Regions from separate parts of the Homo sapiens genome. Here all the other regions are linked to region 2. Evidence: fine-mapped expression QTL. A gene starts in region 2. Each other region holds a variant in brackets. All regions are shown on one strand. Distances are between the middles of the regions. Region 1 overlaps EXPH5 (exophilin 5). Region 2 holds the start of EXPH5 (exophilin 5). Region 3 overlaps EXPH5 (exophilin 5).

Region 1 (4,241 bases), 83 kb before region 2:
CTGGGCAACACGGTGAAACCCCGTCTCTACTAAAATACAAAAATATTAGCTGGGCGTGGCAGCGTGCGCCTGGGTGCGCCTGTGATCCCAGCTACTCTGGAGGCTGAGGCAGGAGAATCGCTTGAACCCGGGAGGCGGAGGTTGCAGTGAGCCCAGATCATGCCACTGCACTCCAGCCTGGGTGACAGAGCAAAACTCCGTCTCCAAAAAACAAAAACAAAACAAAACCAAACAAAAAACAAAAACAAAAAAAAGAAAATGTGAAAATGGATAGTTCTGAGGAAATGGGAAAAGCCAGTTGCTGAGAGAACTGCAGTAAAGGTAAGTCGGTCCCATGAAGGGATACCTACTTCCTACCTCTGCTCCTCAGCTATGTTCTCTTCATAAGCAGAAATTCTGTGACCAGGCAACTTTCTGTATGGTCAGGTTGCCTGGCCTAAGTCCTTGGCTTGACTAAAAGCCCTTAATAATCCAGCCAGTCCCCCACGGTTTCAGAGGAATTTCTAGGACTGCTAACCTTCTATTGGCTTACTAGGGATTCAGGTCCTAATCTATAACCTCAACATGTGCTTTGACCATGTGCCTCCCAGGCTCCACTACGGATATAACAGGAAGTACTTACAAAATTCCTTTATCTTTTTTTTTTCCTTTTTGCAATCAGTTTCTCAGGTTAAAAAATAAATTCCTTTATCTTTGTTTGAAAGAGAAGATCACCACCTTAAACTTCCTAAATGTTCATGAGTCAAACAGGATGATAATATTTACCCCACTGTTATCATCCCTACCTTTTATTTAATGTCATGAGTATAGGGTGTGGACCGGAAGAAGCAATACAGAGTTTCACAGTTGTGCTGGGTAATTCATAAGTTTTGTATGTGCCTGGGATATTAGGGTTGTAAATCACAATTAAAGATGAAAAATGTTAGGAGGGAAGTAAAGCAGAAAGCCCAAATCAGACAGTGAATCAGGGATTAAGTGGGAGTGGTGGAAAGGCAGGCTAAGAACATTTACAGAGATAGAAAATAGCAGAGACTCTCTCAAAACAAGAATTCATTGTTCTAGCATTCAGGAAGTGTCTATATAGGGTGTGGAGGAAAAAAAAGGAGATGTGGGACATTTCAGAGCAGACACTGCCCAGACTAGATCTTTTATCCTTCCATGCACATGCACATGTACACCTTAGTTCCATTATAAGCTTTTGGTGAAAAAAGTAAAGCATTTTATTGAAAAAGCCTCACAGTTCTGACTCTTTGTCATTTTCATCCAGGTAGTATTCATCATCTGTGGTTGTGTCTGTGTCACAATCTGAGTCCACTGGGTCATCCTCATAGATATTAAGCGGTTCACTTGGAGATAAGCCATCTTCTGGCACCTGACTACTGGGAGAATTTGAGCTTAATGACTCTGAGGGGTTGGGAGGGTTCCTCAAATCATCTTTTAGGAAGCCAGGGTTCTTAAGAAAACTTGGTTTCCATAATCTTCCTTGTGTAAGTGACCTCTTTACATTTTCTAAGAAAGCTAACTGTTGTTCTTTCCCAAAGATCCCATAGTCGATAGGTCTGTATATAGATATTGCAGACCTGGGACCTGTTTTTGTCCCGCTGCGATAAGCCCAACTTTCATTTCCATCACAGGAGGGGAGTTCAGAAAAAGATCTGAATCTTCGACTGTACCCATTGTTGACAGAGAATTCATTCCCAAGGGTCAGTCGACTCAGGGCATTGTCAATAGAAGTGCTTTCAGAAAAATGGCGCTCCCTGACTTTTGGAGGATGGCTTTTTCGTAGTAGATCGCCATGAACATTAATGCTTTTTAAACTCTTTGAACGATAGAGGTGTGGCTCAGGTTCCCACTCCAGAGATGAAGCACTCCTTTGTTGCTGCAGAAAACTGGCCAGTGGACTGCTTACTCTAGATTTCTGTGCAGGCTCCAGTGGAAAAGGAGGGCTCAGCCTCCTCTGATTGTCAGAGAATTCTGCTTCCCTGAGGCTGGTGAATGTGATGGGTGATGGGGCTCCTGATTCTCTTACTAAATTCTGAGCTGCTGTGACGTCTTTAGAATTCTCATGCTTTGATGGTGATTCTGAGACGTTTTTAAACTCATTCTGATGTCGTTGTGAAATGCTGTTAGACTTCTGGTTGCTGACGTGTGTAGAAGGTTCTCTGTTGGGTAGTACAGTAATGGGGAGAAGGTTCTCGGATTTCTTCACATGCTTTCCGTTCTCACTCAACCTGCTTTCGCCAATGGACTCTGCAGATTTTGGAGTAGGCTCAGGGAACAGTGGGTTGCACTCCACTGTGCCAAGAGATAAATGGTCAAAGCCAGATCTGCTTCCACTTTGGGGGAAGATAGTAGCTACATGTCTTCTGGGGCTTACATCTTTAGCTGGGAATTTTCTGCTGGCTTTAGACATGGCTGCCAATCTGTGTTTAACTGAAGATCTATTTTCCCCCTTTACTAGGTCATCCAAGTTGGTTTTATTTTTGTTTCCTTCAGGAAGTGAAGGTTGATCCCAAGCTGACTTCTGCATTTCATCTTCAGCCTTCCTGCTCTCTGTCATATTTGCCTCCTGACTTCTTTGAGGTAATTCTCTTGGTTCAGACTGCAGACTCTC[T/C]AAGTTTGGTTCATCTGACTGAGTCTCCTCACCAAGCTGTAGTTTATGCAATGCTGGAGTAAGGGCAAAGACTTGACTCTCTGAGTGAGAAAGTGTTTTATTAGTCATTTTTTGGCAGTTGGTTCCAATGTCCCCTCTGCCTTCCCTAGGCTGTGATCCACTGGAGCCATCACCTACAGCTGTGGATGTGTGATCTTTCTGGGGACACTTGCCACTTCCAGTAAATGGAATGGCTCTACCACTCCCTGTACACTCCCAAGAACTTCTTCTAGTTTGGGAATTTCCAATATTAACTTCTGAAAGAGCTGGAAGACTAGAGGGACCACTGTTACTTGAATTAATGGATTGTTGACAATTTTCAGATTTTTCTTCGGATACATTTTTTCTCTGAAGCATCAATGAAGTATGCAGGGTTTCACTTTGCAACTTTTTGCCTCTTTCCTTCTTGTTTTCTGAATCACCTAGAGGTGTTTTAGCTAAATTATCTGAAAAAATCTCTCTAGCTTTAGATTCCTCTTCAGGAAGAGAAACAGCTGCCTCAACAGAAGCCATTTCCTGTAATGTAGGAGCTAGGGGCCCCCTATTTGATAATCGGAAGGCAGTCATATTTTCAGTGGTGAGCGTCTGATCAGAGTTGACGGACATCTTTAGATTTTCACATGAAGGTGTTCCTGACTGCTCTCGTGTAGAATAATTCTGTTTGTCTTTTTCTAAAGCGTTAGGAAATGTTTCAGTCTCCACTTGAGGTGATTCTATAAGTAAATTAGTATTTTGTGTATACTGTTGAAGGAGGTTACAGAATTTTTTGCTGGGTTTCCTCGGTAGAGTGTAATATATTGAGACCACCTCCAGACATTTTACATTATCTTCATCACCAGAAACAGAAAACGTACTAGTCGTCTTAACTTTATGTAATGTTTTCCCACGTTCTTTTCCTGACAAGTCTGAGCAAAAAGGTAAAGGGTCTTCATTTGAAAGAGCAAATACACTTCTCCTGGAGGCAGCCATTTTACCCTCTTTCTCAGTGTATTCTTGGAAGTTTTCCTTTTGGTGTTGTCTTTTGGTTAAAGAACAATCTCTAACAGATGAGTCACTTTCCACAGGGCTAATGATTCTCTCCCAAGCCCTTGGTGTTAGCTCAGAAGCATCCATGCCTGAGGTCAATGGCTTTTTTCTTCCTTCTCTTCCAGTTGAGGCATGTGGCTCCCCTGAGGGACATGACATAGCCCTGTTGATGAGGAATGGAAGTGGTCCTTTTCTAACGGAAGTAGATCCACTGCTTTTTACATTTGTCATTCTCTCTGTGGCTTCAGGTGCTTCCAGGGCTGAGTCTGAAAGGACTTTGGAACATTCATTCGCTGACTCAGGAGAACTGGGACTAAATTTGTTTAACATATAGTTCCCCATTGCATCTTCCACATTATTTTTGATTTGGAAGGGAGGTGGCCCATTCCTCAATGAAGCAGCCATTATTTTACTTCCTGACTGCCTGCCATGTATGAGAAAACTGCTTGATTTTCTTGGCAAGGTACAATAAATTGTGTCAAGTTCAGAAACTTTGGAATTGCTTTGATTTGCTTCAATGAGGCTCCTGTGATCACTGGTGGGTACTGATATACTTTCTGTT
Region 2 (4,241 bases):
AGTTATAAGTCATGTGTCCTGATTTTTGATTTGGAAAATATGATCACACATATCAAGAAAATGAGCAGAAGAGGCAGCCAAGTTGCCATGTTGTCTCAGGCCCTTTCTGCATGCCAATATCTGATACTGAAATTAATACATGTGAGCCTGAAGTGGGTAAGCAGAACAATCCCATGGAGCCTGCAAGCCAGACATGGGTATTTGATAGTGGAAGTGGGGAATTAATCAAAGGAAAAGACAGTACTAGAAATCATTGCCTTGGGTATTTGGTCCACACATCTACTTTCCTTAAATGATTTTTGTATTTTAATGGTGATATTTTTCAAATTGTTTGGGCAATTAAATACTTTTAATAATTAGTATAATACAGTATCGATTTTGTCTTAGCATTATGGCTTTTTCTGTTGATGCTTCCATTAGAATATGAGTGCCATGAAATTAGAAAATGTGTTTTGACCTTCCTTCTAATGCCCAGCCCAATGGCTTTGTGTAGATACACGTGCTTTGTGTAGATCTATGTGGAGATCCAGTTCCCTCTAAAGTCAACTGCAGTGGGCATCGTGAGTTGCAATAGAGAAAACACAATAAGGCAAGCAAGCATCAGGTCAAAAATAAAAAGTCAAGATAACATCTTAAATGAAAGCTTCTCTCCTTGTTATTTTCTAACTCTCCCCTCAATTTCCCCAAATATACAATGGATCACTTAAGAAGCCCCATCCTCTTCAGAGACAAGAAACATTTCCAATAACACACACTGAGAATAACCGCAGTTTCTTAGTGCCTTTGGAATATGCACTGAAATTCCGTGCAGTTCTGAAATTCTTCTTCTGAAAGTTGGGTGTGCCTTGTGCGGTGCATGTGCATATGTGTAGGTACATTATGCACGTGGGTGTGTGTGGGTGTGGCATACTGTTCTCCTGAAGGCACACTTTCTACACTGTTCAGGGGAGGGGAATGATAAAGCCACTTTTTCTCAAGGCAGATGGTATGAAATCCATATTCCCCAACCTCAAATATTCCTTCATCCCTCAAAGAGTCATGTTTAGGGGAGAAGGGTGAAGTCAGGGCATTGGGCTTAGTGTATTCTAATTCTTTCTACAAAGACCAACTAGATTTTCCAATTTGAAGAGGGTCCCTGGAGGGTTTCTTTTGTCGGCGGTGGGGGACAGGCAATTCTAGAAAGAATTGGGAACCTGGAACTCGCATTAGCAAGCAGTTGATCATAAAACAAAATGACTTGCTAAATTCCAATCAATGGCACACAGTGTGGTCTGAGAGTGATGTCCTGAATTCCCTTCCACAGTTATCTAGAGAAGGACTTAGATGGATATATTCCAATATTGGCGAGAGAGTCCCTTTAATTCATTCCAGCACTTATCCCACACTTCCCCAGCAGAAAAACTGGTTAATGTACATCCTGGGTAATTATCTGTGTCTCTGGATTTCATTCTTTAGTAACTAATCCCTCACCTACAACAGTGTATAGTAAGGTCAAGGATGAAATTTCTCAGAAACTCGCTCCCCACAGCACCACGCACAAGAAGACCCACCCATTCCAGCCAACCCCGTGTGTCCAAGTCCCATTCGCCCACATAAGCCTCTATTTGACAAATTCCTCGAGCTCCTACCCTTGGGGTGGGGACCTTTCGCCTCCCGTGAGGTGCCGGCTCTCCCGTGCTTCGCTGACTGCCCGCATTGGGTGGGGAGATTCGCCTCTGGTGCCGAGGGAAAACTGCGTTAGGCGAGGGTGGAAGCTCTGTCGGACCCGTGCGAGCACGTGGGTGCGCGCGGGCCGCGGAGTGAGCAGCAGCCAGGATTCCTCTCCAGATCGCGCCCCCGCCGCATTTCATTGCCTGAAACGGCCCACGCCCCGCGATGGCCCAGCAGACACCCGGCACAGCACAGCGTCACTGCGCGGCCCCCGCAGCGCACGGACCCCCCCACCCTGCCCGACCCCAGACCCGCAGCCGAGCCCGTCTGGTATGTGGTGGGTGGAGAGGGTACCAACTAAGCATCCCAAAGTCCTTCAGGGAGCAACTCCGCGCAGTTTTCTCTTCCCGACCCGCAGCCTCCGCAGCAGCCGCTCGGAGCACCCCCGGGCAGGTGCCCCGCGCGAGCTCAGCGCCTTCCCCGCGGATCCCCGGCCCCTGCGGGACCCAGGCCCAGGACAAAAGAAATGAATTTGCTCTGTACCTGATCCTGTCCTTCTCGGCCCTCTGTAACTCCTCATTCCTTTCCAGCACCTGAAGGATCTTCCTGGCCTCTTCGTCATTTAAGAAACTGAAATCAAACGCCGGAGGAACTTTCGTCATTTTCTTTACTGTGTGTGAGTTACACTTAAGCTCCTTGGCGCCTCCTGTTAGGAAGGCATTTTTCAACCTGTACAAGACCAGTTTCACGAACTTGATCCCACAGCCAATAATAAGTCCGCCCCTTTGAAAGTCTAAAACCACAAACCTAGGGAACGCCCACACCTGAAGGGCTCATATTGACAATACCTTAATGACATGTTTCTCTCAACCTGTCCAACCGAGATGCAAAGTGAACGGCTAAAGGGAGAGAGGGAACCAATCCCGTTCCAAGGGGGCGGGCCCTCCCTTGTCCCCTCCCTCGTCCCCTCCCTCGTCTCGTCCCGTCCCTCGTCCCCTCCCTCGTCCCCTCCGGTCACCCTCCCCGCCCCCTATCTGAGTTGTTAAGCAAACAAGCCTACATAATTCTGCCTCTTAAGTGAGGCAAGGCTAAGTGTTGGCGCCAAAGTATTTGCTTTTGCTGTTGCTGTTTGCTCGCAGAACTTGAGCTTGATTAGTAAAGGAGTGAAAAAGGAGATTCATGACTAATCCTCCCTTTCAATAATTAAGAGCCCATAGAAAATAGAATTGCAAGTAGGGTTTGTAACTGGCAAAAGGGTTACTTATCTGAAAGACCAGGAAGAACTAAACTCAATTACACTACTGACTGTGGATGAACCTGGCTGAAGGGCGGAAATTAGTGTATCCTTGGAAACGAATTATTTGCCAAGCCTCTCATCCCACAGACACCCCCACCTCCACTGTCCCACAAAAGTCATTCTTAGACTTTAGAAACAAACAAACAAACAAACAAAACCGTTTATGGTATTTTAGGAGAAGACAGCCCAGAAGCAAAGGACTGTAGAAAACACCTGTTAGAAGTTTTCTGTAAGATTTTATTATCATCTTAATAAACTCAGAGAAGTAATACACATGCCATTTAAAAATACCTAATCCTCTGGTGAAAGCAAATGGTAATCCTATGAAGCCACAGAAATAGCTTTCCTAGAAAGTCAATTGTTCCACAATGCAATGAAGAATAATAGAAACTTATAAAGATATTCACATATATACTTTTTTTTTAATTATCAAGGCTTTTACAGAAAACATGTTTTTATCTTGGCTTCACTTCCTACCCAAAAATAACTCTGTCAGATTGACTTTCCTGCCCCATAGCCTTAATTTGGTCATTTTGAAGATGGTGGTGATGATTACTAACATATAAAATGTACTTCTACATATATCATTTCTTTTCATGGCACATAAACCCAATTAAAATTTTGTATCTGTACAAGAACATGATATCAAAAATTGCCACTTGTGTTTTGTTCTCTGGGCTACCCCATTTGATCATCATTATTTAAAACATGCCTAGGCAGCTAGCCATTCAGATAACTTTCTGTGGGTGTCTGTTATTTGTGTGAACCAGGAACCAATTTTGTTCACCCATGGTGTACACAATACAGAACTCCTTTATAAATAGTGTCTGTATTAATGATCCTGTTTTGGGAGTATGTCTTGTATATGGTGTCCAGTTTTTCTAGTGTGTTCATTTATTCAGCATACACATGGGACTTTTCAATATGGTCACTGGTGGGATTTTACACTGTTTCCAGTATATCAGTGAACTGATTTCAACCAACGTATCCTGGTGCCTATTACATGAAGGCATCACACACTGTGAACAACACAGTCCTTGTCTTTAGAAAGTTTGTAATCCAGTGGGAGAGATACACAAATAGAAAGATGACTATGTAAAAAAGAACATAATAGAGGAATAAAGAAAATTCCATGAGCACACAGAAAAGTTAGTGCCAACTGAGTGGATGGAGAGAGGATACGGTATTTAGGTTGCTGCATGAAGAGTCAGATTTCAAGAGGAAGAAATAGGGGGTGGTGGGAGGAGATGTGTGAGTCTATTCTAGGCAAGGGGATCAGCGTGCTGAATAGCAG
Region 3 (4,241 bases), 30 kb before region 2:
TAGATTTTAAAAGACATCAACTATTTAGCTTTGATTCCCTTTGACATTATTGGCATAGAAAAAGAAATCTGGATATCTGATTCCCTCCATCTTGTTTTGTTTTGTTTTGTTTTGTTTTAAATCATTCTGGCATCTCTATTCTCTTTGCCAACACCCAAAAATAGCACTCGATCAAGCCACAGAAGTAATGAATTAAGCATGGTGGTAGATCTGTCTGAAAGATGTGGACCACTTTTCTAGCAAACAGGTATCCCATGAAGTGTTGGGAGTCTGTCCTACTCATAGTAAAGTGGTCATGGGTAGTTCCTGTGCTTTGCCTCGTGGGATCCAACATTTTTTGCATTCCTACCCTAATCACCCAAAAGCTAAACATGAGCAAGAATGCTGCCCAGTGAATTCTATTTGTTCTATTTTGGAGAGTGATTAACAACTTAATAACGTCTTTCCTCTTGGCATGTCTTAAAATCATAATGCCAAGTAAGACAAACTAAAGTGACATGGCTAAGAGACACATAGCGAGAAGGTATTGAGCAGTACCATGAAGAGAAGCCATCAGGCACCAGAGTCTTGAACAGGAGGAAGCTATGGGGCAGAGAGGAAACTTGCAAGAAGAAAATCAGCCCTGGCAATGGAAGTGAGTAGGGAGAAGCAGAACAGAGAAGCTGGACCACAAGCCTGTGGTTACTAGCCTGGTTGATTGATTGGCACCAGAATGCTGCAGTATTCTGATCAACATTCCGGTTCCTGAGGACTGGCCGTGCAGGGTTGAGGCCGTTTCCTGTGTTTCCTTACTTCTCCATTAGATCCTGACAATAAAGTGCCACCCATCCCTTGAGGAAACTGCTCTATGTTCCTTGTCACCTGAAAGAACATAATGAAAACATCCAGCCATAAGCAGCATGTAGGAATTTGTTCACAGAGGAATTCTCCAGCATTGATTGGGACAGGAAATTTCAAATGTCAATAAAACTGACTTTGCTTTGCCATTATACAATTTTTTCTGTGTTTTTTTTTTTTTTTTTTTGTAATTGTGAAAGTAAAATTACATCAGGCCGGGCTGGGTGGCTCACGCCTATAATCGCAGCACTTTGGGAGGTCGAGGTGGTGGATCACTTGAGGTCAGGAGTTTGAGACCAGCCTAGCCAACATGGAGAAACCCGTTCTCTACTAAACAACAACAAAAAAAAAGAATACAAAAATTAGCTGGGTATGCTGGTGCATACCTGTAGTCCCAGCTACTAGAGAGGCTGAGGTGGAAGAATTGCTTGAATCTGGGAGGGAGAGGTTGCAGTGAGCTGAGATCGCACCACTGCACTCCAGACTTGGCAGCAGAGCAAGACGCTGTTTCAAAAAAAGAAAGAAAGAAAGTAAAATTACATTCAATGCAAAAGACTTGGAAATTAAAGAAAAAACTTGAAGGGGCCGGGCATGGTGGCTCACACCTGTAATCCCAACACTTTGGGAGGCCGAGGCAGGAGGATCAAGTGAGCCCAGGAGTTCAAGGCCAGCCTGGGCAACATGGTGAGATCCTGTCTCCATTTAAAACAAACAAACAAACAAAAACTTGAATAAAAGAAATCACTCATAACTCCCACTGTCAGAGATACTGCTGTGTGTGTACATATGTTCATTCATGTGTTTTAAAGCAGTAGTCACAGGACTAGGACTCTGACTCAGTTTTAGCTAAAGCATGAAAGCAAGAGATTCAAGACATCTAAGGGAGTTGTGAGAAGACCAATCAGGAGAACTTGCTTTGTGGGATTTTTAAAAACAAACAAAAGCCAAATCTCTCTAGTTAGG[G/GT]TTTAAGTCCCCTTACATGCATTGACTTGGAAGAGTGAAGACAGAGGGAGGATCTGTGAGGAGGCTTTCTCTAGAGCCAGGGAGCTTAACTGGTACGACTGGAAGAGCTTAATTTTGTCCCTTGTGGTTTGGAGGAAAGGTAGACTGGTATCTGCCTCCTGCCTGAGAAATTTGAGCTGGAGAAACTGGGGCCTGCCAGTTGCTTTGACTGCAGAATGAAGTGCATAGCTCAGCTGTCAATCAGCCCTCATTTCCAGGGTTTCTCAAGCAACCACAGTATGACTGTGTCCCGTGGAGAAGATGTGGGCCCCAGGAGAGGCTGAGGAGGCATGGGGTTCTCTTAGTTCATGCCTGCTAGAGTCAGCTCCAGGGGTGAATAAACCTGAGTAGAAAGAGGTTGTGGGTGAACCCCTGGATTCCTAGCACAGAGCAGGGGAGAGCACATTATCTGCATGGAAAGAGCTGCTGGGGAACAGTGCCGGGCCACGGGCCATCTCAGCAAACCCCAGACGAGCACACAAGAGAAGAGGCAGATTTAAACATCTGCCCTACCCAGAGAGAGTGATGCCACCTCACAACCATTCTAGTCAAGCAACAGCTTTTCTGCATGTGCCTTCCATCCAAACTTAAACCTGCCTCCCAGCCACCGTCCGGTTCAACCCTGGAACAGTAAAAAACCACCACTGAAGGGGTGGAGAGGCAGAGGTTGATGGGGAAAGGGAAAAGGATCAAATCCTCTTCACTGTCCTAGGCGTCGCTCTGCAGCAAGCGGTGGCTGTGTGAGGGGCTGCTCCTCTGAATAAAGCTGGGATTAATCTAGGACCGTATGTTCTAATTATCTCTGAATTGAGACTGTGTTTGTGTCTTAAAGTGACCAGAAAAGTCAAGGGACTGCCTTTGTTTGTATCCAGTGGCATTTAAAGGGATAGTAGGAGACGGCTGCACACGGTGGCTCATGCCTGTAATCCTAGAACTTTGGGAGGCTGAGGCGGACGGATCACTTGAGGTCAGGAGTTCGAGGTCAGCCTGGCCAACATGGTGAAACCCTGTCTCTACTAAAAATACAAAAAAAAATAAATTAGCTGGGCATGGTGGTGGGCATCTGTAACCCCAGTTATTCAGGAGGCTGAGGCAGGAGAATCGCTTGAACCCAGGAGGCAGAGGTTGCAGTGAGCTGAGATCGCACCACTACACTCCAGCCTGGGTGACAGAACAAGACGGTCTAAAAAAATAAAAAAGAAATAAAAGGATAGTAAGAGACAAAACTAAAGATGTTTTCTTGTTATATTCCATGATTCCTACTTGCTCCACATGTCAGTTATGTATGCCTGCATTTTCAAAAAATGCTCTTACCCTATGCATGCTTTGTGTAGTCTATGTTTCCCACTTAGCATTACATTAAGAATGCTATGCTATGTCAGTATTCCACCACTGCATCTCTGTACTGTAACATATGATCCTACTCCCCTCTCGTTGGAGTTATTTCTAATTTTTTAGAGTCATAATGTTGAAATAAACCCAGTTCAAAACTAGCATTGTGCCCATCTCTGATTAATTCCTTAGAATCAATTTCCTTGATGTGGAATTGCCAGGCCAAAGGATGAACATGTTTTAATGACTTATGAACTATATCACACCAAATTACCCTGGAAAAAGGTTGTATCAAATTTTCCCTTGTATGACGGTCCATTTCCCCATGTGCTTGCCAATGTTAGTTATGTCTATTCTTTTTGATCTTTGCTAATATGATAAGCCAAAAAAAGTTTTCTTTTTTTTTCTTTGTATTTCTTTGATTACTAGAGAGGTTGAACATTATTTATTATGTTTATTGGATATGTGTAGCTTTTTTTTTTTTTTTTTTAAGATGGAGTCTCACTCTGTCTCACTCAGGCTGGAGTGCAGTGGTGAGATCTCAGCTCACTGCAACCTCCGCCTCCCGGGTTGAAGCTATTCTCCTGCCTCGGCCTCCCGAGTAGCTGGGATCACAGGCACCCACCACCACGCCTGGCTAATTTTTGTATTTTTAGTAGAGATGGGGTTTCATCATGTTGGCCAGGCTGGTGTCAAACTCCTGACCTCAGGTGATCCGCCCACCTCCACCTCCCAAAGTGCCGGGATTACAAGCATGAGCCACCATGCCTGGCCTGTAGTTTTTGATAACTTATCTGCTCAATACCTTTGCTGATTATTTTAGCCCAGGTACCATTTAAAATATTGGTTCTATGAAATCCAAGGTAAAGAGCCAAGCAAATGGCAAAATTGGCAACTCTTGGCATTTGCTTCAGAGTGTAATTCACAGGCTAGTCTATTTCACACTAACTGGGGACTCAGATTGGCCACTACAGCACACCACAGATCAGTGCTGAATGTTGTCTTCAACACACCTAAGCTTCTTGGTTGTTTGCTTCCTATTGCTCTTGCCTTTCTTCAAGTTGCACGAT

What was found. PIP is the estimated chance that this variant, and not a neighbour inherited with it, causes the effect. A credible set is the group of variants that fine-mapping cannot tell apart.
Region 1: its variant is the best candidate, but not a certain one, in a credible set for the expression of EXPH5 in lung (TOPMed, PIP 0.72).
Region 3: its variant is the best candidate, but not a certain one, in a credible set for the expression of EXPH5 in aorta (GTEx, PIP 0.55).

Annotation. Positions count from the first base shown.
Region 1 is chr11:108,508,303-108,512,543 of GRCh38, forward strand. It overlaps EXPH5 (exophilin 5), which reads right to left. Exons shown (of 6, transcript NM_015065.3): 6 at 1-4,241. The coding sequence ends at 1,235. All of the region lies in intron 1 of LOC112267909 (a long non-coding RNA gene), which reads left to right. Among named protein-coding and RNA genes, the nearest start is that of POGLUT3, 12 kb to the left of the region's middle. The variant T/C (reference allele first, on the strand shown) is at 2,615.
Region 2 is chr11:108,591,225-108,595,465 of GRCh38, forward strand. EXPH5 (exophilin 5) reads right to left here and starts at 2,544. Exons shown (of 6, transcript NM_015065.3): 1 at 2,194-2,544. The coding sequence starts at 2,312. RefSeq lists silencers at 2,021-2,080, 2,361-2,410, 2,431-2,730.
Region 3 is chr11:108,561,261-108,565,501 of GRCh38, forward strand. All of the region lies in intron 1 of EXPH5 (exophilin 5), which reads right to left. Among named protein-coding and RNA genes, the nearest start is that of EXPH5, 30 kb to the right of the region's middle. RefSeq lists an enhancer at 1,904-2,013. The variant G/GT (reference allele first, on the strand shown) is at 1,801.